Homo sapiens: one gene and its partners. The protein of the gene in region 1 interacts with the protein of each later gene in a biochemical or structural test. Each region holds a gene or a part of one and is shown in the gene's direction. Other genes may lie near its edges. The genes, in order: PARP1, CEBPA, CHFR and ERG.

What was found.
Region 2: the proteins of PARP1 (region 1) and CEBPA form a complex in vitro, tested with the Homo sapiens proteins (2 studies listed by BioGRID, with this or other methods).
Region 3: of the proteins of PARP1 (region 1) and CHFR, one has a biochemical effect on the other in vitro, tested with the Homo sapiens proteins (2 studies listed by BioGRID).
Region 4: the proteins of PARP1 (region 1) and ERG form a complex in vitro, tested with the Homo sapiens proteins (2 studies listed by BioGRID and IntAct).

Annotation. Positions count from the first base shown.
Region 1 is NC_000001.11:226,397,241-226,405,841, reverse strand, and holds part of PARP1 (poly [ADP-ribose] polymerase 1), read left to right. Parts: intron 1-3,462; coding exon 3,463-3,628; intron 3,629-8,601. UniProt on the Homo sapiens protein: Poly-ADP-ribosyltransferase that mediates poly-ADP-ribosylation of proteins and plays a key role in DNA repair.
Region 2 is NC_000019.10:33,298,852-33,307,364, reverse strand, and holds CEBPA (CCAAT/enhancer-binding protein alpha), read left to right. Parts: upstream 1-4,830; 5' UTR 4,831-4,845; coding exon of another isoform or gene 4,846-4,950; coding exon 4,951-6,027; 3' UTR 6,028-7,431; downstream 7,432-8,513. UniProt on the Homo sapiens protein: Transcription factor that coordinates proliferation arrest and the differentiation of myeloid progenitors, adipocytes, hepatocytes, and cells of the lung and the placenta.
Region 3 is NC_000012.12:132,831,063-132,836,413, reverse strand, and holds the end of CHFR (E3 ubiquitin-protein ligase CHFR), read left to right. Parts: 3' UTR 1-4,058; downstream 4,059-5,351. UniProt on the Homo sapiens protein: E3 ubiquitin-protein ligase that functions in the antephase checkpoint by actively delaying passage into mitosis in response to microtubule poisons.
Region 4 is NC_000021.9:38,494,376-38,503,283, reverse strand, and holds the start of ERG (transcriptional regulator ERG), read left to right. Parts: upstream 1-4,806; 5' UTR 4,807-4,903; coding exon 4,904-4,921; intron 4,922-8,908. UniProt on the Homo sapiens protein: Transcriptional regulator. May participate in transcriptional regulation through the recruitment of SETDB1 histone methyltransferase and subsequent modification of local chromatin structure.

The DNA of each region.
Region 1 (8,601 bases):
GACTGGCCATTTGCGAGCCTTTTTATTACGCATTTTTAAATGTTATTCTGAGAAAGGGACATCCAGGCGCCTTAACAGGTGGGCAGAGTACCGTGTTCTGGTGGAAAGACAAACAAAACCCAAGTCCAGACTGTGTTGAGGCTAGAACAACACCGCTGTGGAGGAAGTTAGAGGAGGCTTAGCTGTGGGGGAGGCCGGATGGAGGAAACTGAACCTGATCAAGTTTAGCATTCTGGGGCCGGGCTTGGTGGCGCATGCTTGTAATCTCAGCACTTTGGGAGGCTGGGGTGGGCAGATTACTTAAGCTCAGCAGTTTGAGACCAGCCTGGCCAACATGGTGAAACCTGTCTCTACAAAAAAATGCAATGATTAGCGGGTCGTGGTGGTGCGTGCCTGTTAAGTCCCAGCTACTCCGGAGGCTGAAGCTGGAAGATTGCTTGAGCCTGGGAGGTGGAGGTTGCAGTGAGCTGAGATAGTGCCACTGCACTCCAGCCTGGGCGACAGACCCAGACCCAGACCCAGACCCTGTCTGAAAAAAAAAATAGTAATAACAACATTCTGGGCTTTCCTTTGGTATACTTGATAGTGAAAGAAACTCTTTATTATTAAAAGTAACTGTGATTTTTATGTAATGGTGATTAAGGGTGGATTCAGAGTTTTAATTCAGAATTTAAAGTTGGTCTGGTAGACTGAGCTGGTGAAGGCCAAAAAGAAAGAAGCCTTTTCACTTGCTTGAATTTAAATACCTTCTTTTACATTTACATGGGAGTATTGTTCTCTGAGTATCTGATACCTGACACTTTAGCCCTCATGCCTGGGGCATCTTGGGAGGGATGAGCTGGGCCCTCCAGCATTTTGGTGGGAGGAGGATGGCGGTAGACCTTTGAGTTGCTCTGTCCTGGGAGGGTTTGAGCACCCGGAGGCATGCAGTGAGGTCAGTTCATTCTCTCTGTGGCCTAGGTGGACAGGTAGCATGGCCTGTTCTGCACAGAAGGGAACCCAGTTCACCAGCTGCTGGTTGGGTGAGGACCCTGGTATGTTAGGTGCTCAGTTTTTGCTTGGGTGCACAGCCAAAGATTCTGTGCCTTGCCTCAGCTGTGCAGCTAACAAATGGAGTCGATAGTCTTGTGACCTTGGTTTGGTGCCTTTCTGCCACATCATTCTCAGTCCTGAGTTTAGGGCAAAGCATTGCTTTGGTCAGGGGTGCTTCTGCTGAGGCTCTTGTCCTCTAAGCTTGTGCTGTGATTGCACCATTGGGCAGCACCTCCAGGGTGTCCAGCACTGTGCCGGTGGTTGGGGGAGACAGCACCCAGACCAAAGGGCAGCAGGTCTGGGGCCCCTGGCAGAGCCAGGAAGAAGTGCCATAGCCATTACCTGTGCTCTTTATACAAGGGTAACTGGAACATTGCACAGGAAGGGTAGACAAGGGGTAGACAAGCAGGCAGAGCCAGGTCGAGGCCATTGCAAATATTCCATGATAGCCAGATGCTTAGGGATCTGTATCAGCAGCCTAATTGAGATCTGGTGGAACGTTTGAGAGTTGGAACATGAGTATGCTCTCAGAAATGCCATTTGTTGTCTCTTCTACAGCAGGAATTTCCCCATCCTTCCTTTTTTGTTCCATCTGACTTGGAGCCCTAAGCAAACACTGCGTGCCCTCTGTGACATGTTGCTAGAGAATAGCAAGATAGGCCCTTATGAAATAATCACCAAATGCATAGTTCTTAGTGAGGGGAGCTGTGGAAGGAGCATTGGGAGATCTGAGGGAGTGCTCTGAACAGGGCTGGAGAGCATTCCAGACCCAGGGGAAAGCTGATGTTGAGGAGTCCTTGTGCTGCCATAGTCTTAGCTGTGCATTTTAATACATCACATCCAGAAAGAGGCCACTCACAGTGGAGAGAGATAGTGGGGTACCTTATCATTGCTTTTCCAGAGTATTTTCCCTGTCCCCGCAACTCCATCCTAAAAATTCAGCACATTTACTTTTAATGCTGTTTTAATAGTCTTATTGCATCTGTGTGACATTTAGCTTTATGTTCTATAAAAGCAGATGTTTGGGACTTCCCTTACTTTAGTCAGATCACAGTTGGTGTATTTTTAAGTAGCTCTTCCTGCCGGGCAGTGGAGTGTGGTGGGAGGAATCATAGTGTCAAATCATTCATTTGCTGCCTCTGTGACTCCCAACCCCCCAGGCAAGGATTTCCAGCCCCACTGTCTCCATCTGTGAATGAAAGGGCTGGTTCCCACCCAGAGGCAGATTGTGGGATTACACAGGATGGCTTATGAAAGGAGCAGGGACACACACTACATACTGTGTCTTCCCCTTCTTCCCAATCGCTGTCACCGTCCACTCTGTAAAGCCAGGACTGGGTGCAGTGGTTCATGCCTGTAATCCCAGCACTTCGGGAAGCCGAGGCGGGCGGGTCACGAGGTCAGAAGTTCGAGACCAGCCTGGCCAACATGGTGAAGCCCCATTGCTACTAACAATACAAAAATTAGCCAGGCATGGGTGGCACGTGCCTGTAGTCCCAGCTACTCAGGAGGCCGAGGCAGGAGAATCGCTTGAACCCAGGAGACAGAGGTTGCAGTGAGCTGAGATCGCACCACTGCACTCAGTGCAAGACTCGGTCTCAAAAACAAAGCCAGACAGTGCTCGAGGCCTGGGAGCAGAACCTGACCCTGTCACAATGAAAGGCCTAGTGGGAAGCAAACCACCTGGAGAGGGGAACTGTGTTCCCTGTGGCCAGACTTCTCAGGTCCTACGCCTGGGAAACTGCGCCCCAGAAGGCCAGTGAGCAGCTGACTCCAGCTCTAGGCATGCTGCCCCGAACCATCCGCTGTCACAGTTGCCTCAAAGACCTCCATTCATTCCACTCCCATCTGTGTGGCTGCTGCAAGCTTGACACTTTTTTCTGACACACTTTCTCTGCTTTGCTCATTATCTGGGACTTGTTCCTTGTTATTCTTAACTGCAGAGGCACTTAAAGAGCCCTTTTCTGGGGCACACAGGCCCTTTGAGTCCAGGCAAGCCTGGAGCAGTTGTCTGGCCATTCCCAGCAGATGCTGCAGGATTGTGACTCTGCACAAGTGTCTTCTGTGCATTTCACTAGGCCATGAGGCAGCTCACCACTAAATGTAGCAGTGTGTGGTCAAAAGGGACGTGGGGCAGAGCTCAGTGGTAAAAGGCCACCTTTCTCGTGGCTGTGTTTGGTGTCCTAAGAGAATGAGCTCAAGAACAGTGGGCTACAGTCTTCTGACCCTTGGGGAAGATCGTGAGAAGGATGCTGCAGCTCTTCATGTGAGAGCGGAGGCTGTCCTCCTTTCACAGATAGGAGAACAAAAGTTTCATGTGCTATCCCACTGCTGGGGCTGGGACTGGGGTCGAGGTCAAGGTCAAGGTCTAGTGGGTCTAAGTCAAAAGTTAACTGCTTACTTACTTCCCTCTGTTTCTCTTCCTTCTAGTCGCCCATGTTTGATGGAAAAGTCCCACACTGGTACCACTTCTCCTGCTTCTGGAAGGTGGGCCACTCCATCCGGCACCCTGACGTTGAGGTGGATGGGTTCTCTGAGCTTCGGTGGGATGACCAGCAGAAAGTCAAGAAGACAGCGGAAGCTGGAGGAGTGACAGGTGTGTACATACTGGGGCAGCATGGGCATTCAGCCCCCACCCTGAAGCTCCCAGGAGGGCCTCGTCTCAGAGAGCAAAGCAAACCTCCCCCAGCTTGCCCTCTCCCACATGTGCAGATCAAGCGTATGGTGCCCATGTTATTTCAGCAACACCTCCTGGACTCAGCATCATCTGTTGCATGATATTTGGTATTTTGTTTTTCCAGGTGCTTGGAATGTAGCCTTTAAAGTTGTTTTGTTTTTAATATACTTTATTTTTGTTCATGGCAAAAGTAAGCAAAGAACAAAGAGTTTCCAGTACCCCCTCCCCCTCCCACCACACAGGCTCTTCCTTGTCAACACCTCCCACCAGAGTAGTACATTTGTTATAATTGAGGAACCTACACTGACACATCATTATTGCCCAGAGTCCAGAAACTCCTGATGCTCTACATTCTATGGGTTTGGACAAATGTATGATGACATGCATCTGCCATTATAGTATCATACAGAGTAGTTTCAGACCTGCACCCTTCTGCAGCCCCCTTAAGATTAAGGAAGAATAGCTCATCTCTGAGAGGGGAATGAGGTAGGAGGTGGGGCTCAGACACCAAACCAAACCGAGGACTAACTAAAGCAGGGACAGGGACGAAGCAGCTTTCCATAAAACACCCACCAGTGTGCCATATCAGTTTACCATTGCCATGGCAATACCCGGAAGTTACCACCCCTTTCTGTGACAACAATCTGATGACCTAAAAGTTACCACCCCGTTTCTTAACATGTCTGCATAGTCTGCCCCTTAATTTGCATATAATTAAAAGTGGGTGTAAATATGACTTCAGAACTGCCTTTGAGCTGCTGCTCTCAGCACAGTGCCTGTGGGGTAGCCCTGCTCTGCAGGAGCAGTCACAGAGCCATAACACTGCTGCCTCAATAAAGCTGCTTTCTTCTACCACGAGCTCGCTCTTAAATGCTTTCCAGAGCGAAGCCAAGGACCCGCCCAGGCCAATCCCCAATTTAGGGCTGGCCTGCCCTGCATCAGTTTCACTGCTCTAAAAATCCCCTGTTTATCCCTCCTAATTCCTGACAACCACTGCTCTTTTTACTGTCTCCACAGTTTTCTCCTTTTATGTCTTCTCCCATGTCTTAGTACAGGTCACGTCAGGTGACATAGCAGAGCAGAAAGCAAAGCTATTAAAAGCTTTATTAGGAGAGGTAATCCTAGGGCAGCAAGAGAGAGGGAGGAAGGGGAGGCAGGAGGGCAAGCACAGTGCCATACGCTGTCAAGCTGGCCATGGCTTCATGAGAAACAGCCAATGGCTTGGTCATGCAGGATGCCCTCACGCAAGTCCTTTGCCACTAAGCTTCAGAAAAGCCCCTCGGAGCAGGAGGAAGGGAGCAGCATTATCCATTGGTTCTTTCTGCCTCTTGTTTCTCATTGGTTTTAGCTCGCTGGAGGTGCTGTGGTTCTCTGCACTTCCAGACTGTGTTCCTGGCCTCTGCACAGTCACGCCCTGCAGCCAGAGCTGCCTCTAGATCTGGAAGTGGCGGGAGGACTCTCAGTCCCTGGTTTTGAAAGAGTTGGCCTGTTGGTGACAGTGCTGTGTTTGTTACTGTGGTGGTCACTACAGGGTGGGTATGCCAGGGTGTGGCCCTTACCCTGAGGCAGTGACAGTGCTAGGGAACAAGGCTGTGGCACCAGCAGCCACTGTCAGGTAGCCCACCCTGGGGATACAGATGAACTACATCCAGTACGTGTAATTTTATGGTTCCTTATTTCTTTTAACATCTAAATGTTTACTCTATTTGAGAGTTATCCCGGTGTGTGCTGATGTGTGGTGTGAGGCGTGACTCCAGTTTTATTTTTTTCCAGATGATGATCTAGTTTCCCTACTTTGTTTTTTTGTTGTTGTTTTTGTTTTTGTTTTGTTTTCGAGATGGAGTCTCACTCTGTTGCCCAGGCTGGAGTGCTGTGGCATGGTCTTGGCTCACTGCCACCTCCGCCTCCCGGGTTCAGGCGATTCTCCTGCCTCAGCCTCCCGAGTAGCGTGGTGCCTGCCACCATGCCCAGCTAATTTTTTGTACTTTGTTTATTGGCTTATTCATCTCCCCCATTGAGAGGTGTCTTGTATCATGCACAAAATCTCTGTATTTTGGGGTCCTTTTAAAAATTTCTGTTCCATTGTCTGTTTAACCTTTTTTTATATGTAAACTTTTTTCGTTGTTGTTGGAGACGGATTCTCGCTCTGTCACCCAAGCTGGGGTGCAGTGGTGTGATCTCGGCTCACCGTAAGCTCCGCCTCCCAGGTTCATGACATTCTTCTGTATGTAGACTTTTTTTCTTATAGCAGTTTTAGGTTCACAGCAAAATTGAGTAAAGTACAGAGTTTCCATATACCCGCTAGCCCTACCCACCCCACACATACACAGACTTTTGTCCACAATCAACATCGCCACCAGAGTGGTCCATGGTTATAGCTGATGAGCTACATTGACACATCGTTATCGGAGTGGTCCATGGTTATAACTGATGAGCCACATTGACACATCGTTATCCCTCGAGGTCTGTAGTTTACATGAGGGCTCACTCTTTGCATTGTACATTCTGTCAGTTTTAACAAACATACATTGACATGCATGTACCTTTATGGTAGCCTCCAGAGTCCTTTCACTGCCTGGGAAATCTCTGTGCTTTGCCTAGTCATTCCTCCCTCCCCTCTAACCTCCAGTAACCACTGATCTTTTTGCTTTCTCCATAGTTTTTCCTTTTCCAGAATATAATATAGTTGGAATCATACAGAAGGTAGCCTTTTCAGATTGGCTTCTCTCACTAGCAATGTGCTCTTAAGATTCCTCCATGTCGAGCCGGGCACGGTGGCTCACATCTGTAATCCCAGCACTTTGGGAGGCCGAGCCCAGCAGATTACGAGGTCAGGAGTTCGAGACCAGCCTGGCCAATATGGTGAAACCCTGTCTCTATTAAAAATACAAAAATTAGCCGGTGTGGTGGTGTGCACCTGTAGTCCCAGCTACTCGGGAGGCCGAGACAGGAGAATTGGTTGTACTGGGAGGCGGAGGTTGCAGTGAGCCGAGATCATGCCACTGCACTCCAGCCTGGCAACAGAGCGAAACTCCATCTCAAAAAAAAAAAAAAAAAAAGATTCCTCCATGTCTTGTCGTATTGATAGCTCATTTCTTTTTATTACTGAATAATATTCCATTGTCTGGATTACCACAGTTTGTTTATTCATTGACCTGCTGAAGGACATCTTGATTGCTTCCAAGTTTTGGTGATTATGAACAAAGCTGCTAGAAACACCCACCATGTGCAGGTTTTTATGGGGACATAAGTTTTCAACTCCTTTGGGTAATCAAGGAGTACAATTGCTGGATCATGTGGTAAGAGTATATTTAGTTTTGTAAGAAACTGCCAAGCTGTCTTTCAAAAAGCTGAATCATTTTCCATTCCCACCAGCAATAGATGAGAGTTCGTATCATTATACATCTTTGCCAGCATTTGGTGTTATCATTGTTTTGGATTTTGGCCATTCCAATAGATATATAGTATTTTATTATTGTTTTAATTTGCATTTCCCTAATACTGTAATTATCTTGAACATCTTCTCATACGTTTATTTACCATCTGTATATCTTTGGTGAAATGTCTTTTGCCTGCCCCTACCCCCACTTTTTTTTTTTTTTTTTAAGACTGTCTTGCTCCGTCGCCCAGGCTAGAGTGCAGTGGTGTGATCACAGTTCGCTGCAGCCTTGACCTCTGTCTCCCACCTCAGCCTCTTGAGTAGCTGGGACTACAGGTGCGCACCACCATGCCTGGCTAATTTTTTTAAATTTTTTGTAGAGACAGGGCCCCACCTTGTTGCCCAGACTGGTCTCAAACTCCTGGTTTTGCTCTTTTTAAAATCACATTGTTTGTTTTCTTACTGTTGAGTCCTAAGAGTTCTTGGTATATTTTGGATAACAGCCCTTTGTCATATGTCTTTTGAAAATATTTTTTCTCAGTGTGTGGCTGGTCTTCCGCAGAGCAGAAGTTCTTAATTTTGTGAAGTCTAGTTAATCAGTTACTTCTTTAGTGGATTGGGCTTTTGGTGTTTGTAAAAAGTCATCACCAGACCCAAGGTCATATAGATTTTCTTCTAGAAGTTTAACAGTTTTGTGTCTTACATTTAGGTCTGTTATCCATTTTGGTTACTTTTTGTGAAGGGTGTAAGGTCTGTGTCTAGATTCCTTTATTTTTTTTCTTTTTTTTTTTTCGCATGTGGATGTCCAGTTGTTACAGCTCCGTTTGTTGAAAAGACTATCTTTTCTCCATTTTTGCCTTTACTTTTTTGTCAAAGATCAGTGGACTGTGCTTGTGTGGCTCTGTTTCTGGGCTCCCTGTTCTGTCCCACTGATCTACGTATCCTTTTGCCAGTACCACACTGTGTTGACTGCTGTGGCTTCATAGTAAGTCTTTAGGTTGGGTAGTGTCAGTCCTCCAACCTTGTTACTGTCATGGCAGAAGGCAGAGGAGAAGCCGGCAGTTGACATGGCCGGAGCAGGAGGAAGAGAGTGAAAGGGGAGGTGCTACACATTTTTCAACAACCAGATCTCAGGAGAACTCACAAGTATCATGACACAGCACCAAGGGAGAAATCTGTCCCGGTGATCCAGTGACCTCCCACCAGGCCCCACCTCCAACATTCGGGATTATAATTTGATAGGAGATTTAGTGGGGACACAGATCCAAACCATATCACTGTCTGCCCTTGCAGCAGCTGGTCCTTGCAGCTGTTGGTATGTCTGACTAGCTGCTTACTGCAAACAGGTTAGTAACGGCTCAGAATTGGGAATTTTAAAAAGTAAATAAATTTGCCAAGAAAGGGTTCAGAGGGTGAGTATGTCAGATTTAACAGAGGACAGCTCTCATTCTGTTGCCTAGGCTGGAATGTACCGGCATGATCTTAGCTCACTGCAGTTTCTAACTCCTGGGCT
Region 2 (8,513 bases), on another chromosome or scaffold:
CCCTAATCCTCCCAGCAGCTCCCTACACCACCTGCCTCCTGGGGAGACAGGATAAGTAATCTCATGGGTAGAGCTGGGCGCCTGTGGATAAAAAACACTAGGCCGGACACAGTGGCTTACACCTGTAAATCCCAGCACTTTGGAAAGCCGAGGTGGGAGGATCACTTGAGCTCAGGAGTTCGAGACCAGCCTGGGCTGCGTGGTGAAACCCCATCTATACAAAAAATTAGCCAGGCATGGTGGTGCATGCCTGTAGTCCCAGCTACCCAGGAGGCCGATGTGGGAGGATCACTTGAGCCTGGGAGGCGGAGGTTGCATTGAGCTGAGATCCAACCACTGCTCTCCAGCCTGGGCAACAGAGTGAGACCCTGTCTCGAAAAAAAAAAGAAGAAAGAAAAAGAAACACTGGACTTTGGGTTGATTATGCGTTGAGTTCATATGCTTTACATGTCAAGATCTAAAGCCTAAAATGAATCAGTATAAAACCGTTTATGAATCCATTTGTAACAAAAAGTAACTAGTGTTTTTATTTTGTTTTGTTTGTCTAGTTGGAGGAAGGCCTTTGAGAGTATCTTATTGAATGATTGAGACATTATTAGCTATACCATATTAGATACTTGTACCCCTAGCCAGAGCTCAGCTGAGCCTGAAATCATAGTTCTGGACTTTTATCTTATCTGAATTGGTCCTGTTTGGAGCGACCAATCTTACACACACATTTCAGCTTCAGATAAAGTCAGAAAACTACATCAGAAGGGTTAGTTCCGTTTTTGCTCTTCAGAATTTGATTGATTTCCAAACTTACGTACTAATTCTCTCGTGGGCCTTGCATTAGGAAGGTTAAACCAAAGTAAAATAAAACATTTCTAGGGCTCTGTTTGTCTTCTCAAAATGGTTAGTGCTGTGATTGACTCCAGAATCAGGCTTCATCCTGGAGCATCCAAAACTCAGGACCACCGTTTCCCGGGGACTCACGCTCAACCCCCCACACTGGGCCTGTGTACACCCCCATCCACAGCCTCAGGAAGAAGGACCTTAAAGGTGGTCACAGAAGAATTTACAAGCTGCTCTTAGGACTGGCTTTGTCTCAGTTGCACATGAGCCAGAGCCACTTCTCCCAATCAAAGGTGATTTCTCCTTTGCTCCCACTTCTCCAGCCACAAGCCAACTGTCTATGAGACTGTCAGACATCAGCCCCCTCTCCCTTACCCTGTGGGACTCTCCCATGGAAAGTGCCTCCATCGACCCCAGGGTCTCACCCCAACTCCCCAGCTAATTTCCTGCTTTAGGGCTTGGGCAGGACACTTCTATCTAGGGCCCTAGACACCCCCTGTCCTCTGAGAACCCCGCCAGGCCTAGCCAGAGACCTACCACTTGCCCTCAAAACCATTTCCTCCTCATCCCGAGGTACACTTTTAGGCTTCCAAGGAAAAACCAGAACATGGTAGATGGATCTTCGCAACTGCTCCAAGGTCTTCCCCTCCAAAACCACAAAGCAGGCAGGTGAGTATCCTGGAATGAGTCCCCAGTGGCCTCCTGGGGGCTTGGAGAGGGGCCTCCAATTTCCTGGGCATTATATGTGTCAGGGGGTGGTAATCCCAGCCAGAAGCCTGGCATTCAGCCCCCAAGTCCTGACATCTTGTTCTAATCTACCCTGCCCGCTCATTACTGGGGCAATACAAGTCTCCATCCTTTCCCATCTGGTCAACACCCCCTCTCCGTCTTGGCCAGAGTAGATTCTCAGGAACCCAAATCCGACAACGAAGCTCCCCTGCTAAAATCTGGAGGTCAAAAGCCTGGGAGATAAGGGTTCCCCCTTCACCTGCAGTGGCCTTGGCCATCAGCCCAGCCCTGTCTGCGGATCCAGCCTTATCTAGGCCCCACCCTCCCTCACCCCACTCTCCAGCCGGCCAACCATCTCGTTCTTTGTTACCAGAACACATGCACTGGCAGGCTCTCCACCTTTGCACTTACCATTCCCTCCTCCTAGAAGAGCCTTCCTCCCTTATCCTTCCAGCAAATTCCTGCTCAACTTTCAAGGCCCAGCTCAAAGGTCTGCTCCTGCATGAAGCCCTGTCTCACCGCCGGTTCAGTCCAAGCAGGCTGCCATCATAGACCTACCATAAACATTTATTTCTCATGGTTCTGGAGGCTGGATGCCCAAGGCCAAAGCCAAGCTGCCAGCACCCTCAGGTTCTGGTGAGGGGCCTCTTCCCTGCTTGCAGACGGCCACCTCCTTTCTGTGCATGCCCATGACATTGTTCTTCTGATAAGGCCACCAATCCTATCAAATTAGGACCCTACCCATATGACATCATCTCACTTTAATGACTTCCTAAAAGCCTTATCTCCAAATACAGTCACATGGGGGTTAGGCCTTCAACATAGGAATTTGGGGCAGGGACACAGTTCAGTCCATAACACCTCCGCAGACAAATCTGATCTCTGCCTCCTCCACAGCGCCACCTTGTTCAGGGCAGGACTTCTCTTCATCACAGCACATCCACCCTTGATTCCCATTTGTGCCTCGTGTGCATTTGATGAATGAATGAAGTCCCATCCCCTACTCCTTCTGTCTCCTCCTTCCTCCCAGCAGCCTCTGTGTGACAACTTATCCGTCTCTCCCACTGTCCCAGTTCCCAGAGGCAGGAGCCACCCTCTCATGCATCCCTGGGCTCTCGGCACCCTGCACAGGGCAGGCCCGGGTGGGTGAATTCTGGTTCAATTGTAGGAGGACCTGTGGCCCCTGGGGTTGGCGAACCCCGGGCCGGGAGTCCCACTCCTTGCCATTGTCGCCCCCACACATTCATCAGCCCCCTATTGGACAAAGTCTTATTCCCATTACTGAGGTTTCTTCCAGTCCTACGGGGCAGAGTTCCCGATCTCTGGGCAGGCAACAGCAGCTGTGCAAAAAAGGCCAGACATCGCCTTCCTCCCACAACTCCACAGGCCGGGAACCGTGCATGTACAGTGGCGTTTCTTTGTTCCTAGGTAGGAAAAGCCATTAGTTTTAGCACCGCAGAAAAAAACGCAAATCGCTCTTGGTGCTTTTTGATTTCCGTCCAGGTCTCCCTCCACAGGTGAATGCTATATGAATGGGTCCTGCATTTGGCTCAGCAAGCAGCTCTCCGGCTCACATCGGGATATTTATTTAACGTATCTGGTTTTTACTCCCTCCCGTCCAAAAGCGTCAAGCTAAAAATATCTTGTTTATGAGCTCTGGACCGAAAACGAAGCAGTTGGGCTATTAATCACTGGGACTATGTTGAATAGGAACTTGATTAAAGCGCAGTGTGCGTTGCCCAGATGAAACTGCTTCTTTACTGCGATCGTCGTGGAAGCTCGGGGCTCTCCAGCGGTGTTTTTAGCTGTGCCCCCTCCGGGGCTCCTGGGCGGGTCGTGGCGCCTTGCCAGGCCTAAGGCCACTGTCGGTGAAGGGGGTCTTCCCTCACCTGTAGGCAAGCGCGCCTCTAGCCGGGACGCAGGCGGCGTCAGGCCTCAGCGCCAGTGGCGAGGGGCGGCGCGGGCAAGGACAGGAGACACTTGAGGGCTCCCAAGACTCCATCTGGGCCCAGCTGACGGTCCGTAGCCGCCACCCCGGCCCCGGTAAAGAATGCGAGGGACGCACGTGGCTGGGGGTCTCGGTGGCAAGCTCCTTCCCCCGCCGCGGTGAGAGCATTAGCTGCCGCACTCAAGGGGCCCCAGGGCCTGGCCGCCTCGGTCCCTAGGATCCCGGGGACTACAGCGCCCGGCGAACCACTGGGCAGAGTTCTCCCTGTGCGTGCTCGGACCTGGCAGCCCGGCGGCCTGGACACCCTCGCTCCCGCCGTTGGCGCCCACCTGAATGGGGAGGCGGGGGAGGAAGCGGTGGCTTCGGGCCTCGAGGGCTGCGGCCCCCGCCTCGGAATCCCGGCCCCAGAGTTAAGTTTGTCTCCTCCCTCGGTGCGCCCCTCCCCGTGCTCGCCCCGGCGTCCAGCTCCGCTAGTCTGGGGGGCCCCGCGGTCCCGCAGGAAAAAAAATCGGCGACTCCACGCCGGGTAACAGCGCCGGCCCCGCGCGCCTAGCAAGCCGCGCGCTCCGACCTGGAGAAGTAATTATAAAGAAAGTTTTCCAGCCCGGGCGGATCGACCGGCCAGGTCCTCCAGGCTCCCGGGCCGAGGCCGCCTCCGCTCCCCGCGGGGTCCTAGCGCCCTGCGCGGCGCCGCCCATGGGACCCCGGCGTCCTCCGAGAGGTACCTCTGCGCGGAATCACAGGGGTAGCCTGGAGATCAGAGCTAGGAGACGCAGAGCCACCGCGCTCAGGACCTCTCCGCGCGTCCCAAACGGCCCCCCACCGGCCCCAGCCCCGCTGCTCTGCGCTGCAGCCTCCCCGGGACGCGGGTCCGGGACAGGCCTGGTTCTGGCTTTGAAAGAGAATCCGCGCCCCAGCAGCTCAAGACCAAGACTCGCCCTCCGCCCCCCACCCCTACCCCGTGCAGCCTCGGGATACTCCTGGGCTCCCGGCCGTGGCTGGATACGGGCGCCTAGGGCAGGCAGGAGGAGGGGGCCCCCGCTACCGACCACGTGGGCGCGGGGGCGACGGCCGGGCCGGGGGCGGAGCTTGGAGCGAGCGCCGCGGCTCTGCTGGGCGCGCTGGAGGCGGTGGGCGTTGCGCCGCGGCCTGCCTGGGGAGCGCGGCGCTGTGCCGCGCTGGTTCGCCGCCCCATGCCGGCCGCGCGCTAGGACCCAGCAGGCGCCGCGCCGCCGCAGCCCGGGGACAGAGGCCGCCTCGGACTCTAGGGGGCGACGCGGCCTGCCGGGTATAAAAGCTGGGCCGGCGCGGGCCGGGCCATTCGCGACCCGGAGGTGCGCGGGCGCGGGCGAGCAGGGTCTCCGGGTGGGCGGCGGCGACGCCCCGCGCAGGCTGGAGGCCGCCGAGGCTCGCCATGCCGGGAGAACTCTAACTCCCCCATGGAGTCGGCCGACTTCTACGAGGCGGAGCCGCGGCCCCCGATGAGCAGCCACCTGCAGAGCCCCCCGCACGCGCCCAGCAGCGCCGCCTTCGGCTTTCCCCGGGGCGCGGGCCCCGCGCAGCCTCCCGCCCCACCTGCCGCCCCGGAGCCGCTGGGCGGCATCTGCGAGCACGAGACGTCCATCGACATCAGCGCCTACATCGACCCGGCCGCCTTCAACGACGAGTTCCTGGCCGACCTGTTCCAGCACAGCCGGCAGCAGGAGAAGGCCAAGGCGGCCGTGGGCCCCACGGGCGGCGGCGGCGGCGGCGACTTTGACTACCCGGGCGCGCCCGCGGGCCCCGGCGGCGCCGTCATGCCCGGGGGAGCGCACGGGCCCCCGCCCGGCTACGGCTGCGCGGCCGCCGGCTACCTGGACGGCAGGCTGGAGCCCCTGTACGAGCGCGTCGGGGCGCCGGCGCTGCGGCCGCTGGTGATCAAGCAGGAGCCCCGCGAGGAGGATGAAGCCAAGCAGCTGGCGCTGGCCGGCCTCTTCCCTTACCAGCCGCCGCCGCCGCCGCCGCCCTCGCACCCGCACCCGCACCCGCCGCCCGCGCACCTGGCCGCCCCGCACCTGCAGTTCCAGATCGCGCACTGCGGCCAGACCACCATGCACCTGCAGCCCGGTCACCCCACGCCGCCGCCCACGCCCGTGCCCAGCCCGCACCCCGCGCCCGCGCTCGGTGCCGCCGGCCTGCCGGGCCCTGGCAGCGCGCTCAAGGGGCTGGGCGCCGCGCACCCCGACCTCCGCGCGAGTGGCGGCAGCGGCGCGGGCAAGGCCAAGAAGTCGGTGGACAAGAACAGCAACGAGTACCGGGTGCGGCGCGAGCGCAACAACATCGCGGTGCGCAAGAGCCGCGACAAGGCCAAGCAGCGCAACGTGGAGACGCAGCAGAAGGTGCTGGAGCTGACCAGTGACAATGACCGCCTGCGCAAGCGGGTGGAACAGCTGAGCCGCGAACTGGACACGCTGCGGGGCATCTTCCGCCAGCTGCCAGAGAGCTCCTTGGTCAAGGCCATGGGCAACTGCGCGTGAGGCGCGCGGCTGTGGGACCGCCCTGGGCCAGCCTCCGGCGGGGACCCAGGGAGTGGTTTGGGGTCGCCGGATCTCGAGGCTTGCCCGAGCCGTGCGAGCCAGGACTAGGAGATTCCGGTGCCTCCTGAAAGCCTGGCCTGCTCCGCGTGTCCCCTCCCTTCCTCTGCGCCGGACTTGGTGCGTCTAAGATGAGGGGGCCAGGCGGTGGCTTCTCCCTGCGAGGAGGGGAGAATTCTTGGGGCTGAGCTGGGAGCCCGGCAACTCTAGTATTTAGGATAACCTTGTGCCTTGGAAATGCAAACTCACCGCTCCAATGCCTACTGAGTAGGGGGAGCAAATCGTGCCTTGTCATTTTATTTGGAGGTTTCCTGCCTCCTTCCCGAGGCTACAGCAGACCCCCATGAGAGAAGGAGGGGAGCAGGCCCGTGGCAGGAGGAGGGCTCAGGGAGCTGAGATCCCGACAAGCCCGCCAGCCCCAGCCGCTCCTCCACGCCTGTCCTTAGAAAGGGGTGGAAACATAGGGACTTGGGGCTTGGAACCTAAGGTTGTTCCCCTAGTTCTACATGAAGGTGGAGGGTCTCTAGTTCCACGCCTCTCCCACCTCCCTCCGCACACACCCCACCCCAGCCTGCTATAGGCTGGGCTTCCCCTTGGGGCGGAACTCACTGCGATGGGGGTCACCAGGTGACCAGTGGGAGCCCCCACCCCGAGTCACACCAGAAAGCTAGGTCGTGGGTCAGCTCTGAGGATGTATACCCCTGGTGGGAGAGGGAGACCTAGAGATCTGGCTGTGGGGCGGGCATGGGGGGTGAAGGGCCACTGGGACCCTCAGCCTTGTTTGTACTGTATGCCTTCAGCATTGCCTAGGAACACGAAGCACGATCAGTCCATCCCAGAGGGACCGGAGTTATGACAAGCTTTCCAAATATTTTGCTTTATCAGCCGATATCAACACTTGTATCTGGCCTCTGTGCCCCAGCAGTGCCTTGTGCAATGTGAATGTGCGCGTCTCTGCTAAACCACCATTTTATTTGGTTTTTGTTTTGTTTTGGTTTTGCTCGGATACTTGCCAAAATGAGACTCTCCGTCGGCAGCTGGGGGAAGGGTCTGAGACTCCCTTTCCTTTTGGTTTTGGGATTACTTTTGATCCTGGGGGACCAATGAGGTGAGGGGGGTTCTCCTTTGCCCTCAGCTTTCCCCAGCCCCTCCGGCCTGGGCTGCCCACAAGGCTTGTCCCCCAGAGGCCCTGGCTCCTGGTCGGGAAGGGAGGTGGCCTCCCGCCAACGCATCACTGGGGCTGGGAGCAGGGAAGGACGGCTTGGTTCTCTTCTTTTGGGGAGAACGTAGAGTCTCACTCTAGATGTTTTATGTATTATATCTATAATATAAACATATCAAAGTCAATGTCGGTGTCTTTTTAAAACCAGAAAGAAGCTACTTCCAAGGTTGTCTGTGGGCCAGGTCACATTTGTAAATAATACAGCATTTTCCCTGGCGGCAATCCTGACTTTCATGAGCTCTCCATCCATCCTGAGCCCCTCTTACCCTAAGGGGGTGACTTACTTCCCCCAGGCAAGACAAATAAATAGCAGAGGACAAGGCTCCAAATGGAGTATGTCCAGAGCCTGAAGGCAGTCTCTTGGGGTCAGGGGAGGGGGCTGAAGGGGTTACTGGGCTGAGGCCTTGGCGAGGCTTCTTATCTGCCCCGGGGAGGAGGAGAGGGAGTCCTCTGCCTGAGGGGTAGGCCTGGCTAAGCAGCCCTAGGCTCAAGGAGCCCTTTGTGCAGACTTCCTTGCAAATCACCTACAGCTGCAGCCCTGGCCACTCACACACACCGCAGCTCCAGATTCCAGCAGGACCCTCGGCCAGCAGGAAGAGGCCTCCAGTGGTAGGACCCTCCAACCCTCTCCTCTTTCCCTAGACCATGTGGCTACACCCTACCCCTGCGAGGCCCGAAGGCAGCCTGAAGAGAGAGACCCCTCCATCCAGCCCTCCACACCTGCCCAGCCCCAGCCCTCACAAGAAAGGGGGCTGAGGCAGGCCTGCAACAGGGGTCTGGTCCTGCCCCACACACTGGCTGTTCAAGAACCCACCCAGCATCCACACTCCCCACTGCATTCATCCCAGACCCAGCAGGGGACTGAGTGCTGGTGTGCCCCCAACTCCAATGAGCACCCTGTAAGGTCAGGCACTCCGGCACCCCCTTAGCAGCAGTGACAGCCAAGCAAGGGAGGGCAGCCCTTATCCCTGAACTAACAAGGCCCGGGAGAAAGAGGCCCAGGAGGCTGATGGTGCTTTTCAGATTTTACCCTCACGGAGGGTAAAAGATAAATTGCACTTTTCTTTTTTTTTTAACTCTGTACCGAGAGAATGTTCACTGAGTGGCTTACTGTGTGTACCAATGCGGGCTGGGGCATTTTCGAGAAATTACACATTCCTTTTACACTCTGGAAGCTTAGCTTTACCTGCCTGCGTGGTTAGCTGGC
Region 3 (5,351 bases), on another chromosome or scaffold:
GGGCCGAGCGCCGTGCTGGGAGCCTGTCACTGTGAGGGCCGTGCGCCGTGCTGGGAGCCTGTCACTGTGAGGGCCGTGCGCCGTGCTGGGAGCCTGTCACTGTGAGGGCCGTGCGCCGTGCTGGGAGCCTGGCACTGTGAGTGCCGTGCGCCGTGCTGGGAGCCTGGCACTGTGAGGGCCGTGCGCCGTGCTGGGAGCCTGGCACTGTGAGTGCCGTGCGCCGTGCTGGGAGCCTGTCACTGTGAGTGCCGTGCGCCGTGCTGGGAGCCTGTCACTGTGAGTGCCGTGCGCCGTGCTGGGAGCCTGGCACTGTGAGTGCCGTGCGCCGTGCTGGGAGCCTGGCACTGTGAGTGCCGTGCGCCGTGCTGGGAGCCTGGCACTGTGAGTGCCGTGCGCCGTGCTGGGAGCCTGGCACTCTGAGTGCCGTGCGCCGTGCTGGGAGCCTGTCACTGTGAGTGCCGTGCGCCGTGCTGGGAGCCTGTCACTGTGAGTGCCGTGCGCCGTGCTGGGAGCCTGGCACTGTGAGTGCCGTGCGCCGTGCTGGGAGCCTATCACTGTGAGGGCCGTGCGCTGTGCTGGGAGCCTGGCACTGTGAGGGCCGTGCGCTGTGCTGGGAGCATGCATTTGTGAGACCCGCCCTGCCCAGTGCTGGCCTTGAATGTGGGTCCACTTGGGCCGCTGGATCAAAACGCCGCAGAACAGGCGGCTTAAACAACAGAAAGTATTTTCTCACAGTTCTGGGGCCTGGAACTCTGAGATCAGGGTGTCAGCGGGGCCGGTTCCTCTTTGGTCTGTCTCCTTGGCTCGTGGGCAGCATCTCCTTGAGTTCTCACGTCATCTTCTCTTCATGCGTGTTTGTGCCCTAATCTCTTCCTGCGAGGACACCAGTCCTATTGGATTAGGGCCCACACCAGTGGCCTCATTTTATCTTAATCACCTCTTTAAAGACCACACCTACTAAAACTGGAACGATATAGAGAAGATTAGCATGGCCCACGTGCAGGCATGACACCCAAATTCATGACGTGTTCCATGTCTGCAGATACAGTCACCTCTGAGGTCCTGGGATTTAGGGCTTGAACATATTGTAACACTCTGCCATCAAAGCTCGCACGCCACGGGGTTTTATAAAAATTGGGTGGTTTTGTTTGTTGTTGTTTGGCAAACCCCACATGCTGGATACCATTGACACTCCGTGGTGGGCTGAGCCATGTCCCCGTCCCGCCACCACAGATACCCGTATCCGATCACTTGAGCCTGTGATGATGTTGCCTTGCACCGTAAAAGGGGCTTTGCAGATATGGTGGAATTAAGGACCTTGAGATGAGGGGAGGATCCTGGATTAGCTTGTGGGCCCTCTGTGCAACAGTAGGAGTCGTTGTAAGAGGGAAGCAAGAGGCCGGGCGTGGTGGCTCACGCCTGTACTCCCAGCACTTTGGGAGGCTGAGGCGGGCGGATCACGAGGTCAGGAGATCGAGACCATCCTGGCTAACATGGTGAAACCCCGTCTCTACTAAAAAATACCAAAAAATTAGCCGGGCGTGGTGGTGGGTGCCTGTAGTCCCAGCTACTCGGGAGGCTGAGGCAGGAGAATGGCTTGAACCCGGGAGGCGGAGCTTGCAGTGAACCGAGATCGCACCACTGCACTCCCGCCTGGGCGACAGAGCGAGACTCTATCTCAAAAAAAAAAAAAAAAAAAAAGCAAGCAAGAAGTCAAAGGCAGGAAGAGGAGGCTTGGTGACAGAGAAGAGGTGGGAGGGATGTGCTTTGCAGAGGGAGCAAGGGCCTCCAGCCAGGAGAGGAGGGCAGGCTGTCGAAGCAGAAAAGAAAACAGATCTCCCTGCAGGGCCACCAGAAGGAACCAGCCCTGCCTGCCCCTTCATTTTGGACTTCCGAGCTCCAGAACTGCAAGAGAATAAATCTAGTTTAAGCAGCAAAGTTGGTGGTAACTTCTTAGAGCAGCCACAGGAAGCTCACTACCCCCCACACACTCATCCCGTTTGGTTTTTGTTTTCAGGAAGGGTCCAGTCTGTCTCAGAGGTGCTGTGGTTGGAGGTGGAGTGTGGGGCATGGCTGAGCACCCAACATCCGCTTCACCCTCTCCCCTGCTCCCCAGCACGTTCCTTCACCCTGTAGCTCTAGGTCTCTGTGGCAGACACTCAGCTCTAACTGCTGACCTGATGGCTCCACTTGGTGTTCAAACATCCCAGATTCATGTTGTCAAAGAGAGCTGTTTCCAGTGGGGACCCCAGGCCCACCACGTACGCCCGGCAGACCTGCCCTCTCCACTGTCAGAAGATGGCATGGCCTCCCTGTAGCTCAGGCCCAACCCCAGGAGTCATCCTGCTGGCTGTCCTCAGTGCCCCAGGCTTCTCTTCAGGGGCTTCTTGTGGCTCTGATTGTTGCCCCCTCACCTCACTGCTCTTCTCCCAGATCTGTGCGTGCATTGGTCCTCCTTGTCACGCACGTTCAGCTCAAATATTACTTCCTCAAAGGTGCCTTTGAGTACTCGTTCTCCTTGCCTTTCCCTCTCCTGGGACACTGTTCCCACCAGTACCTGCATGATTCCTTTTTTTTCTTTTCCTTTTCTTTTTTTGTTTTTGAGACAGTGTCTTGCTCTGTTGTCAGGGCTGGAGGGCAGTGGCGCAATGTCAGCTCACTGCAGCCTCCACCTCCTGGGCTCAGATGATCCTCCCACCTCAGCCTCCTGAGTAGCTGGGACTACAGGTGCACACCACCACACCCAGCTAATTTTTAGTAGAGAGCAGGGTTTCACCATGTTGCCCAGGCTGGTCTTGAACTCCTGAGTTCAAGCGATCTGCCCGCCTCTACCTCCCACAGTGCTGGGATTCCAGGCGTAAGCCGCCACGCCCAGCAACTCCGTTTCTTACTTGTTGGCTCACATTCTCCTGAGAAGTCCTCCCTCAACCATCGGCCTGAAATAGCAGCGAGCCTCCCCAGGGTTGCCTCTGCCTTTTCTTGACTCTTTCTGTCACCTTCTATGCTTGTTGTCTGGTCCCCACTAGAATATACCTTCTGTAAGAGCAGGGATTTGGGACAGTGCCTAGAATAGTACTTGCAGACAGTAGGCTACGATAAATATGAATGACGGCCCCATGCAGATGGTAGCCCCTCTCGCTCGAACGCTTCACCCAGTTTTATTTTCTTTTCATCAGTTACCGCCCTCTGAAGGTATCCACACACAAACATGAAACTGGACCAAAGCAGGGACCCCCCGCACGCAGAATAGTGCTGGGCTCGCGTAAGGCACCTCAGTGGGTCCATCAGCTGATGCATGGACAGACAAAATGGGTGTATCCAGACACTGGAGTATCGTGCAGCGAGGAAACGTGCTGAGTGTGGATGGACCTTAAACACACCATGCAAGTGAAAAGGCGTCACAGAAGGCCACATACGATATGATCCCATTTCTATGAAATGTCCAGAAGAGGCACATTCATAAAGACAGAAGGTGACTGAGTGGTTGTCGGGCTGGGTGGAGGGGATAGGGAGTGAATGCAAGAAGGATCCTTCTGAGGTAACGGAAGTATCCGGAAACTGGGTTGGAGTGATGGGTGCACAGCTCTGCACATTTACTACAGTCGCTGAACTGCACACACAACACGGGTATATTTTATTGCATAGAAATTGTATTAAAGCTGTTAAGAATTTTACTTAGATTAGCATTTTTCCCACACTGTGCCATCAACTTAGTATATGATTAGATTCATTGTTTCTAACTGTATTTAAATTTAATGTTTGTCACATTTTGCTTGCTAAATTTTTAAAATTTTAAATTACTGTGGGTACATAAAAGGTGTATATATTTATGGAGTACCTTGATATTTTAATACAGACATACAATGTATAATGATCAACTCCCAGTAACTGGGGTATCCATCACCTCAAGCCTGTATCATTTCTTTGTTAGGAACATTCCAGTTCCACTCTTTTTGTTATTTAAAAATATACAATACATTATTATTAACTATATTCACCCTCCTGTGCTATGGAATACTAGATCTTATGCTAATTAAATGTTTTCCCTATTTCTCCCATTGGCTACACCTTAGGATAGTGCAATATGAAAATCAGGAAACTGAGCTTGGTGGAGTGTTTTCTTCATTCTGTCATTTTATCACATGAGGACATTCACGTAACCACGGTCACAAAATACAGAACAGTTCCATCACCACAAAAATCTCTCTCCATCTACCCCTTTTTAGTCATCCGAACCCCACCACCACTCTATAATGCTGTCATTTTGTGACATAAGTGGACACATCGTACAGTTCATGCAGTGTAGACCTTCGGAGATGTTTTCCTCCCTGGATGTAATGCCTTGGAGCTTCGTCCAAGTTATTGCACACATCAGTGGTCAGCTCCTTTTTATTGCTGAGTAGTGTCCATGGCATGGGTGGTCCACGGTTTGTTTCACCACGTCAGAGTGGCATGGGTGGTCCATGGTTTGTTTCACCACGTCAGAGTGGCGTGGGTGGTCCACAGTTTGTTTTGCCACGTCAGAGTGGCGTGGGTGGTCCACGGTTTGTTTCACCATGTCAGAGTGGCGTGGGGGGTCCATGGTTTGTTTCACCATGTCAGAGGACATTTTGGTTGTTTCCAGTTTGGGGTCAGTAATGTACAGGCTTTTGTGTAGACATAAGTTTATTTCTCTGAGTTCAATGTCTAGGAATGCAGTTGCTGGGTCATAAAATTGTTTACTTTTTGAAGAAACTGCCCAACTATATTCCAGAGTGGGTGCACTATTGCTGTTCCCATCAGCAATGTATAAGAGATTAGTTACTCCAGAATACATTATTCCCAGCATTTCATATTGCCACTGCTGTATATTATTTCAGCTGTTCTAATAGGTGTATACTAATATCCCAAGGCAGTCTTTTTTTTTTTTTTTTTTTGAGACAGAGTCTGACTGTGTCACCCAGGCTGGAGTGCAATGGTGTGATCCCAGCTCACTGCAGCCTCCACCTCCCAGGTTCAAGCGATTCTCCTGCCTCAGCCTCCCAAGTAGTTGGTATTACAGGTACCTGCCACCATGCCCAGCTAATTTTTGTATTTTTAGTAGAAGCAGGATTTCACCATGTTAGTCAGGCTGGTCTCGAACTCCTGACCTCAGGTGATCCACCTGCTTCGGCCTCTCAAAGTGCTGGAATTACAGGCTTGAGCCACCGCGCCTGACCTCAAGATAGTCTTAATGTGCATTTCTGTAATGGCTAGTGATGCTGAACCTGGTCACAAGCTTATTTGCCACTCATATATCCTTTTAGTGAAATGTGTTTTCATGTTTTTTGCTTGTCTTCTGTTTGTGTGTGTGTATGGTTTTTTTTTTTTTG
Region 4 (8,908 bases), on another chromosome or scaffold:
GCACTTTTTACAGAACATGCCTGTATTTTTCAGATATTTACAAAAATGAACAACATTGCATGTTACTTACATATTTTTATATTAGGATATAATTTATGTTTATTACAAATTTATGTTTTGAAAATATAAGTGAACCAAAGAAGAAGAGGGGAAAAAACAAAAAGCTTCTCTGCCATTGGTATTATAAGATATAGCTGTCAATATTTTTACTTTGCCTTTTTATTTATTTTTTATTTTTTGACTATTACAAAAGGTTATTGGCCGGGCGTGGTGGCTCACGCCTGTAATCCCAGCACTTTGGGAGGCTGAGGCGAGTGGATCACAAGGTCAAGAGATCGAGACCATCCTGGCCAACATGGTGAAAACCTGTCTCTACTAAAAATACAAAAAATTAGCCAGGGTGGTGGCGGGCACCTGTAGTCCCAGCTACTCAGGAGGCTGAGGCAGGAGAATGGCATGAGCCCAGGAGGCGGAGCTTGCAGTGAGCTGAGATCACGCCACTGCACTCCAGCCTGGGCGACAGAGTGAGACTCAAAAAAAAAAAAAAAAAAGGTTATTTAACAAAAAGTCTAATATGAAAACATACATGACCTAATTTTTACATATAGTGAAACAGGCCCTTTGGAGAGGGGACATGGGTTTTTCTGTTGAACAGCCATTATTTATACTCATTCCAAAGTTTCTAATATGATGATACTATTTCCTTGTATTACCACCGTTCCAATACTGTTCTGCTGCCAACTAGTTGACATCTCCACACATTCATCTATGACAAGATTCATAAAGGGATCGAGTCCCCATAATATTCCTTGGACATGTCTGCCACCATTGCATTTCATTTTTCAACTCGGGAAGGTTAGCTTCGCTCATGGTGTCTATTCCTCAGGTTCACAGATGCTTTGGAACAGAATGCACGGCCATCCCCAACTGCCTTTTTATTTTTAACAAAATGAGTCTATGGATATAATTCTCCTATATACTGTGATTTTTTAACTAACCAGGTAAAATATCAGAGCAGTTTTCCATATTGCTAAGTGTTCATCTACGACATCATTTTCCTGCAATGTTTTTGAGGAGGAAGGGCGTTCCATTGTAGGGATGTATAGGGCAGGGATAAAGACGTGAATGAGTCATGAGTGAATCTTCTGTTGTGTCCCCACAGATGTGGAGGTTCAGACGGATCTCCTCTCTTTGCTCTGCGCATGTATTACATTGAGAACCATGTGGCTGTCATTCAGAGTGTTCTTAGCTCCTAACCTTCCTCCCCATATTCCATACAGAGAAGTTAGTAAGGGAACAAGAATGAGAACTTGTTCGATCTTTAGAAAATGGGAAGAAATGATTTTAGGATAAATAAATACTAGTGTTTCTTTTATTGTGACAGTGAATTTATGGTATATTTATGTTATATTATTTTGTTTCTTTCTTTGGAGTAAAATGTGAGGAGACTAGTGGAAGGTTTTGGCAGATTCACAGGGGATGGGTTTGTGGCAGAGAAGCATGCAAGGGAAATGTGTGCTTTATTCATAGGTTCTGCTGTCCACAGCTACTGTATGGGCTGTGCTGGTCTAGTGTGGTGATTACTGCATCTCAAGGAGAGTGAAAAAGGACCCTGCCCTGATAGGCTCATGGCAGGACGGGCCTCAGGTAGGGGCCGTGTGCCAGATTGCCCCCTAACTTGGTCCGCGTGGTGGCTTGGAGGGCATATTTCCCTAGGGAGAGGAGGTATCAGGTGGGAAAGGCAGCCTGGTTCTTAGGCTGCTGGGTGGTGTAGGGATGAGGCCATTTAATAACATAGACTTGGGGTACAAGTGAGGAAAGCTAGAGTGATATCTATATCTTCAGATAATTTCCCCATAGGATAATATTTGGGAAACGGTTTCTGCACTGCTATATTCTAGTTAATAGATGTGCCTTGGCCGGGCGTGGTGGTTCACGTCTTTAATCCCAGCACTTTGGGAGGCTGAGGCGGGTGGATCATGAAGTCAGGAGATCGAGACCATCCTGGCTAATATGGTGAAACCCCGTCTCTACTAAAAATACAAAAAAAATTAGCCAGGTGTGGTGGCGGGCGCCTGCAGTCCCAGCTACTCGGGAGGCTGAGGCAGGAGAATGGCGTGAAGCTGGGAGGCGGAGCTTGCAGTGAGCCGAGATCGCGCCACTGCACTCCAGCCTGGGCGACAGCAAGATTCCGTCCCAAAAAAAAAAAAAAAAAAAAAAAAGATGTGCCTTGTCCTATCAAGAGCCAAAGATTTTTTTAAAACACTTTACATTAAATAGTCAGAGATTACCAGGCTTGGATGCTATGATGCCATTTGAAACATCAAGAATTATTCTCTTTGAAGACAACAGGAATCAATCAAACATTTTGTCATTAGAAATGAGGAGGAGTTTCCTTTGTAAAATTTTGGAACAGAATTTACCACTCAGTATCCCCAAATTAACTTTTTATTAGATCACTTTTTATGTTTGTATGCATTTCCAAAATTAGACGCAGTAAAACTTATGGATCGAATATTGATCAAATAATAGCATCTGTTTTTCTCTTTTTTAGTATCCAATAAATAAATTTGTCTCTTATAAAACAATATTTTTATTAGTTAGAAAATGATGGATATATGCATGCATGTATGTTATACATAAATAAATATGGGAGAGAGAGACAGAGATTGAGAGAGAGAGAGCATGTGTGAGAGAAAGCAGAGAAAATGATGTACATTGGCACCAGTAGACAATCAGAGTTAACCAGGCAAAGGGTATTAGGAGTTTGGTGTATTATCTTGTGGCTTTTCTGTAAGTTGGAAATTATTTCAAAATAGAGAGGTAAGAAATCCCACTCTTCACAGTTTGATTTGCATTAGGCAAGAACCAGGGAGTTAAGGCCAAATCATCACTGAAGCATTAGGTCCCAGTAGAAATGCTGATCTTTCCTGCTGCAGGGAACAACTGAGGGCTGGATTAGCAACCACGAGGCGTGGGTGAGGCGGGACCACACAGGATTTTCTTCCGTGGCTATTTCATTAGCAAAGCGTTCATCTTATTTAAAGCTGGTGTTTGGTAAAGGCATAATCAGGTGCCATGTGTTGTGGAGGCCACAGTTAACATTTTACATTGATGCTTCTTAGGAGAGAACAAAAAGCAAGGACACTCAGGGAAGCTGAGAGAGCTTTTCTCCTCCGCACTCCAGAATTCTAGTGGAAGCTGCCCAGATAAAACAGCTCAGGACTTTGAAATTTTCGGGGAAACAGAATTTTAATCAGCCTGCCATCTTATTCATTGTTCAGAGATGAAAAGAGCGGAAATCAACACCCCCTCATAATGTAGGTGCTGAGAACTTAGGTTCTGATTTCCACAGAATGATTTTCTTACAATATACTCTCTTTCTTTTCTTTTCCTTCTTTCTTTCCCTCCCTCCCTCCCTTTCTCCTTCCTTCCTCCCTCCTTCCTCCCATCCTCCTTCCTTTCTCTCTCTCTTCTGTCCTTCCTTTCTCCTTCTCCATTTTTTCTCGCCCTCTTCCCTCCCTCCTCCTCCTCCTCTCCTTCCTCTCCCTTTCCCCCCTTATCTTTCTCCTTCTCCTCCTTCTTTTGTCCTAACATGAGGTGATAAATCAGAGGTATATAATAAAAGCCAGAATGACCTGGGCTGGTGGACAGAACTCTGACACATGCCGGCCTAAAGTCTGAGTGAAATCCATTTACTGAACGTCCAGCTCTGCAACCAGGAATTGTCAGATGACTCAGGATTTAGTCTATTGTGTTCTTGGGGTCGCCTATTGAGACCACACCTCTTTATGGGTCCTGCGTTCCTGTAGCTAGATTCAAAGCAAAATGTTTCTTCCAAGCAATTTCCTGAAAATGAGTAATTAAAGTCCTGAAACCCTCTAAGGAATGTTCAGGCCTGCATTCGCTGTACTTCCTTCGAGGAGAAAACAGACCTGTGACCCTGAACTTATAGCTTGGATTTTAGACATGTAATGGGGCCCTCACATGGCATCTCTGGGTAGCCAAAAGTTCTATGAGGATCTGTTGTCTGCAACATGGATGTCTGTCAGAGTGAGACCAGCTCACTGATATTCCGGGACATTTGTAGTCACTTCAGTTATTTGGGTTTTAATAAATACTTGAAAACAAGACTTAGGAAGGTTTATTTTTCCTCTTTATTTTTTGTGTTTACTGTAAGCCTAGAGTCCTTGCGTTTTCAACAACTTTGTTGTAGAGCAAATAAAAAGTGCAGGTATTTGGAAGGAGAAAATGAAACTGTTCTGGAACACTTATATGAAATGTTGAATAAATATAGGTTGTTAAAAATCAGCCAGGCAATGGCTGTTACTGAACATGGCCATCTATTAACATGAAATAAACTCCACCTGCAAAGTTTCCTTTTAGGAGAAAGGAGCTCAAGTCCTCTGTCCTAGTAATTCTGCGAAGAATTGGGCTGCGAAGGGCTGACACCCAGGGCAGTGGGGTGCCCTCAACGCCTTGGCTCCAAGGTGCTTGCAGCCCGTGTGAAGCCATGCGGAGTCCCATCACATCTGCATCCTGCCTTGGTCTCAGTGCAGTGTGTCACACGGCGGCACACCGGTCACACCTGCTGTGGCAGTCCCCATCCCAATTGATGCCTTTTCTTTTTTTAATTAAAAAAAAAAAATCTCCTGGCTGCATATCATCAAGAAAAACAACATTGTTTTCAGGGTCTCTTATCTCTCCACTCCCAAATATCCTGTTTCTTTGGGCTGGACAGCCAGGACCAATAGAAACCTCTTCCTGCCATTGGCTGACTTCATTTCCCAGACTTAGCACAATCTCATCCGCTCTAAACAACCTCATCAAAACTACTTTCTGGTCAGAGAGAAGCAATAATTATTATTAACATTTATTAACGATCAATAAACTTGATCGCATTATGGCCAGCACTATTAAGGTAAGGAAAGGGTTCCTTTTAATTTGACAAAATCTTGTTCTTGTTACTCTTTTCTTTGGTTTCCTTTATCAAGGCAGATAAGTTAGGGTTGGGCAACACCCCCACTGCCACAATAGAGGACAACAAGATTTCCTTTGCACTGCCTAGTAAATTTCCTTTTTCCTACTCCAACCATCCGCAAGGCTTAAAAACTTCAAACTCAGAAAAAAATTGGGGTTTCTAAATTCACTGTTGAGTGCTGTGGATTACTTTTGGAAAGGCTTTTCGGAGCGCTTCTGAATTTTCAGATTCTCTAACTATCCCTAACGGTGCCTGGATGTGTGTCTGAGAAAAGGCAGCAGACTCGGAGAGGTTGAAGGGTCGGGTCAAAGCAAAAGATGCGTTTGTGAATGTCAGACATTTGGAGGCTCTTCAGTGGCTCCTTAGCATCAGGGATGCCAGGCAGTCCCAGTGGAAGCGAAGAGATACTCGGCAAGTGGCTGCTGGTAATGGGACGCAAATGTTGACTTGATTTGTGGGACATCCACGCTGAGAACTGAGTGCTCACGTAACTCAAATGGGGGTAATTTGGTTTGTTCCACTATATGTTTATCTTCAATAAAATACCTACTGTCTGTGCACTGTGAGTAAGATTTCTTCCAGCAATGGTTAGGTTTGCGGAGATTGGAAAGCAATGGCCGGTCGGTTCTCTGTGCTGTGGGGTGTTTGGTCTGATGCATTTCCTTGCCTAAGTTTTTAGTAGATAGCATGTAGAGATTAATGTGGAGGTAAATCTGCACAGGTACAATCCTAAATATGGCCTGATTCCTGGAAATGAAGCCAATTTAATGGTGACTACAAGTCAAGGGGCATGCAGTCTTGAATGGGGGTCCGTTCAGTTGTTTTAAAGGCCACCATGCCTTCGTGACATTTGTAGAAATGTGAAAAATCAGCAACAAAAGCAGATGCTGAGTGGAGGGAAAAGAAAATTGTGTTTGTTGCATGTCTTTAGTTTTGCTGCACGGAGGTGAGAAGCATTTGGTGGTGTTTTCATAAGGCTTTTAGTTTGTTGGAAAGTGCATAAGAAAATGGAAGTTTGCCCAGAATTGGGCCAAGCCATTTTCAAAAATACTCTTTGGTTTGGTATTTTCATAATTTGAAATGTTTGTATTAGAAGATTTGACTCATATGTACCATAGAAACTGTGTTTGAGAAGTTCAGCTTTTATTTCTCAAGGTGTGTTCAATAATATATTAAAAATCTGTGTACCAAGAACTTTCACCTTATACTTTTCTTTCTTTGGCTTCAAGGATTGGAATCTGCTGAAATATGGCTCCTATAGACAGGAATTATAAAATTGAGAGTTAATGTGCCCTACTTATAGCTACATGAATAGAAATTACTTGATTTTGTGACCCAAAATGTTATTTTTTTGTTCTTATTTTCATCCTTATTCATATGCATGTTAAATCAAATATTCTGTGTAAATCTTGAATAGCTTGGGTACGATCTTATGTGGTTTTTTTTCCCAAAAAACTCAGTGCATTAAAAAGGACATTGAAATAACAGACCATCCTTTAGAAGGTAGGTACATTTTGCAAAACATCCAAATGTGTTATACTGTTTAATTTGAAGTATACATTTATGAATACATGAAGCTATTTTGAAAGTTTGAATATTTTGTGATTTTCTGAACACTTTTTTGGAAATAATAGTTTACACTTGTCTAAGGTACTATGCTTGATTTAACATTTTATTACATTGCATTATGTGTTTATTGTATGTACCCAAGTGAACCCTTAGAATGACTACAGGTGAATTTTTTTTTAATCTTCTGTTAAAATAGGCCCTCTTTATAGGTGACTTCCTTTAAGACATGTTTCTGTTAGATTTCCTGGGTAAAGTAATGAGATGATTTTACAGCCTTGTTTATAGAGTGGAAAAAGGAGGTCCTGAGTCTGTTGACTACAGTTTCAATTACGTTAGCGCAAAGCCCAAGTTAGCATAGGGAAAATGATGGCTGTCCACTGGAATTAGGAAACAGCCCCCCATAGAGGCAATTTCCAGTCTCAATGCACTCTGTTTTTTTGTTGTTTCAGTAAATAAATCAATTAGTCGATTAGGTATCAGATGCTCTGAATTTTTTAAGTTGGTTTTCTGCATTTGAGTGGAGTTTTTATTTTTTTGCATTAACATTTGTAAGACCCTATGAGACACTATGAAAAGCTAAATATTCGTATCCAGTCTTTGTGATTCTTACCATCATTTTCCCTTGGTAACTTGAAATTGGGAACAAAATGTTTCAATTGGAAGAAGTAAAGGAATTTTGGGAACTTATGTGAGAGTGTTCATTTATCTCTAAGTGTCTGTGAATTTTAAGATCAGCTTAAGAGTTCTAGTAAAGACTTGGAAGCAACAAAGCTGATGGTTTGCAGACAATTCACTGATTGGTTTTGGTGCTTCCCTTGGGCATTGGTGACATCTGACAATATTGAGAGGTGCTGAACCTCACCGGCCCCACTGTCCCCACAAACATCTCAGTGTTTGCTACAGACTGCAGGGATCCTGCTGTTGCACTGAAAACTCGATTGTGCTTCAGTTAGGAGTTTTAGCCTAATTTCCCAAAGACTTTCCTGATTCCTTTTTTTTTAATGCCATCTGCAATTTGGGAAGTCTAGTGAAGCCTACAGTCCTTTCTCAGAATAATACTTTCTGGTGCCTAAAAAGAAATACATAGAATTACAACAGAAATACAGTCCTCTCCCCGGACCTTTTAAGGAGAACATGAACCCCAGGTTGCAAGTTCTGATCCTAGAAAGATACTTAATGTGTAAAAAGGGAATGTGGGGGATTTTCCATCATCACAGAGATCTGACATTGAAGGATGTGGAGAGAGCCAGCAGCCGGCAGCAGCATCAGGGGAAAGCATCTTAAAAATCAGACAGGACATGGAAAGTTACTAACAAGGCTTGGTGGAGACCTGAGGGCACCCTAGTGCTATTTCCATGACTTGCCTAAAGAAGTTACTTTTTTTTGAATTAACAGAGGTTGGAAGGTTTGATGGTAATTGAAACACGACCTGATAGGACTCAATTTTATTAATTTAAAGACATAAAGCTTGCATTATATACGCCACGTCTGCACATTTGCACTTCTTGAACGTTTGCTATCACATGTGAGGGAAACTTAATTAAGACTAAGAGTTATATGAAGAAAGTTAACTCCTCACAGAATTTTGATGGATGTGATTAATGAGTTTAATAGCTACAGATTTATGATTTTTCATCAACCTGTTGGCTAAGTGAAATACGAATTGCGTCAGTCCTTGTTACTTTAGGGGGATTCCGGGAGAATGGAAGGAAGGCCAGGGGCAAAATGCCGCTGCCCTGCTGTGCATAAGTCATTTCAGAGCATGCTCTGAGTGTTTGTCCTTGCCGAAAAGTGGCTTTACAGGCAACTACTTTAAAACAACTTGCTGCTTCCGTTCTTGGTCAGCTCTGTGATCCAGGCTGCCCTCTGTGGACACAGCACAGTTCTCCCTGGCCCTCTGCCTGTGTGTGCATGCACCCATGCATGCCAGGCACCCTGACTCAGTGACCCTGGAAAGCAGGATTGAGAATGGCTCCATCTGTGGGCTTTTCTTCCCCCATGAAATACAGTGCAGGACTGCAATGCTCTCAGACAATGTGCTGAGCCTGAACCATTTCTTAATTATCTACGTTTATAAGTGATTATCTCATAAAGTTTTTGTTTTGCAAAACAGATCTTTATTTAAACACAAACACAGGTTAACAACTCTTGAAAAAGCATACATAAAAATAAGTAAATGAAACAACCATTTCTGTTGTCTTCAGGAAAATATGACTGATACATTTAGAACTTTAGAATAAGATTCCCTCTGTGGGAGTGGAGACCCAAAGCCATTATAGGCATCCCAACAATTTGGCGGATTTATTGGTTTAACAGCTGATACATAAGAGAATCACAGAGTAAGGGCCATGGGGAAGC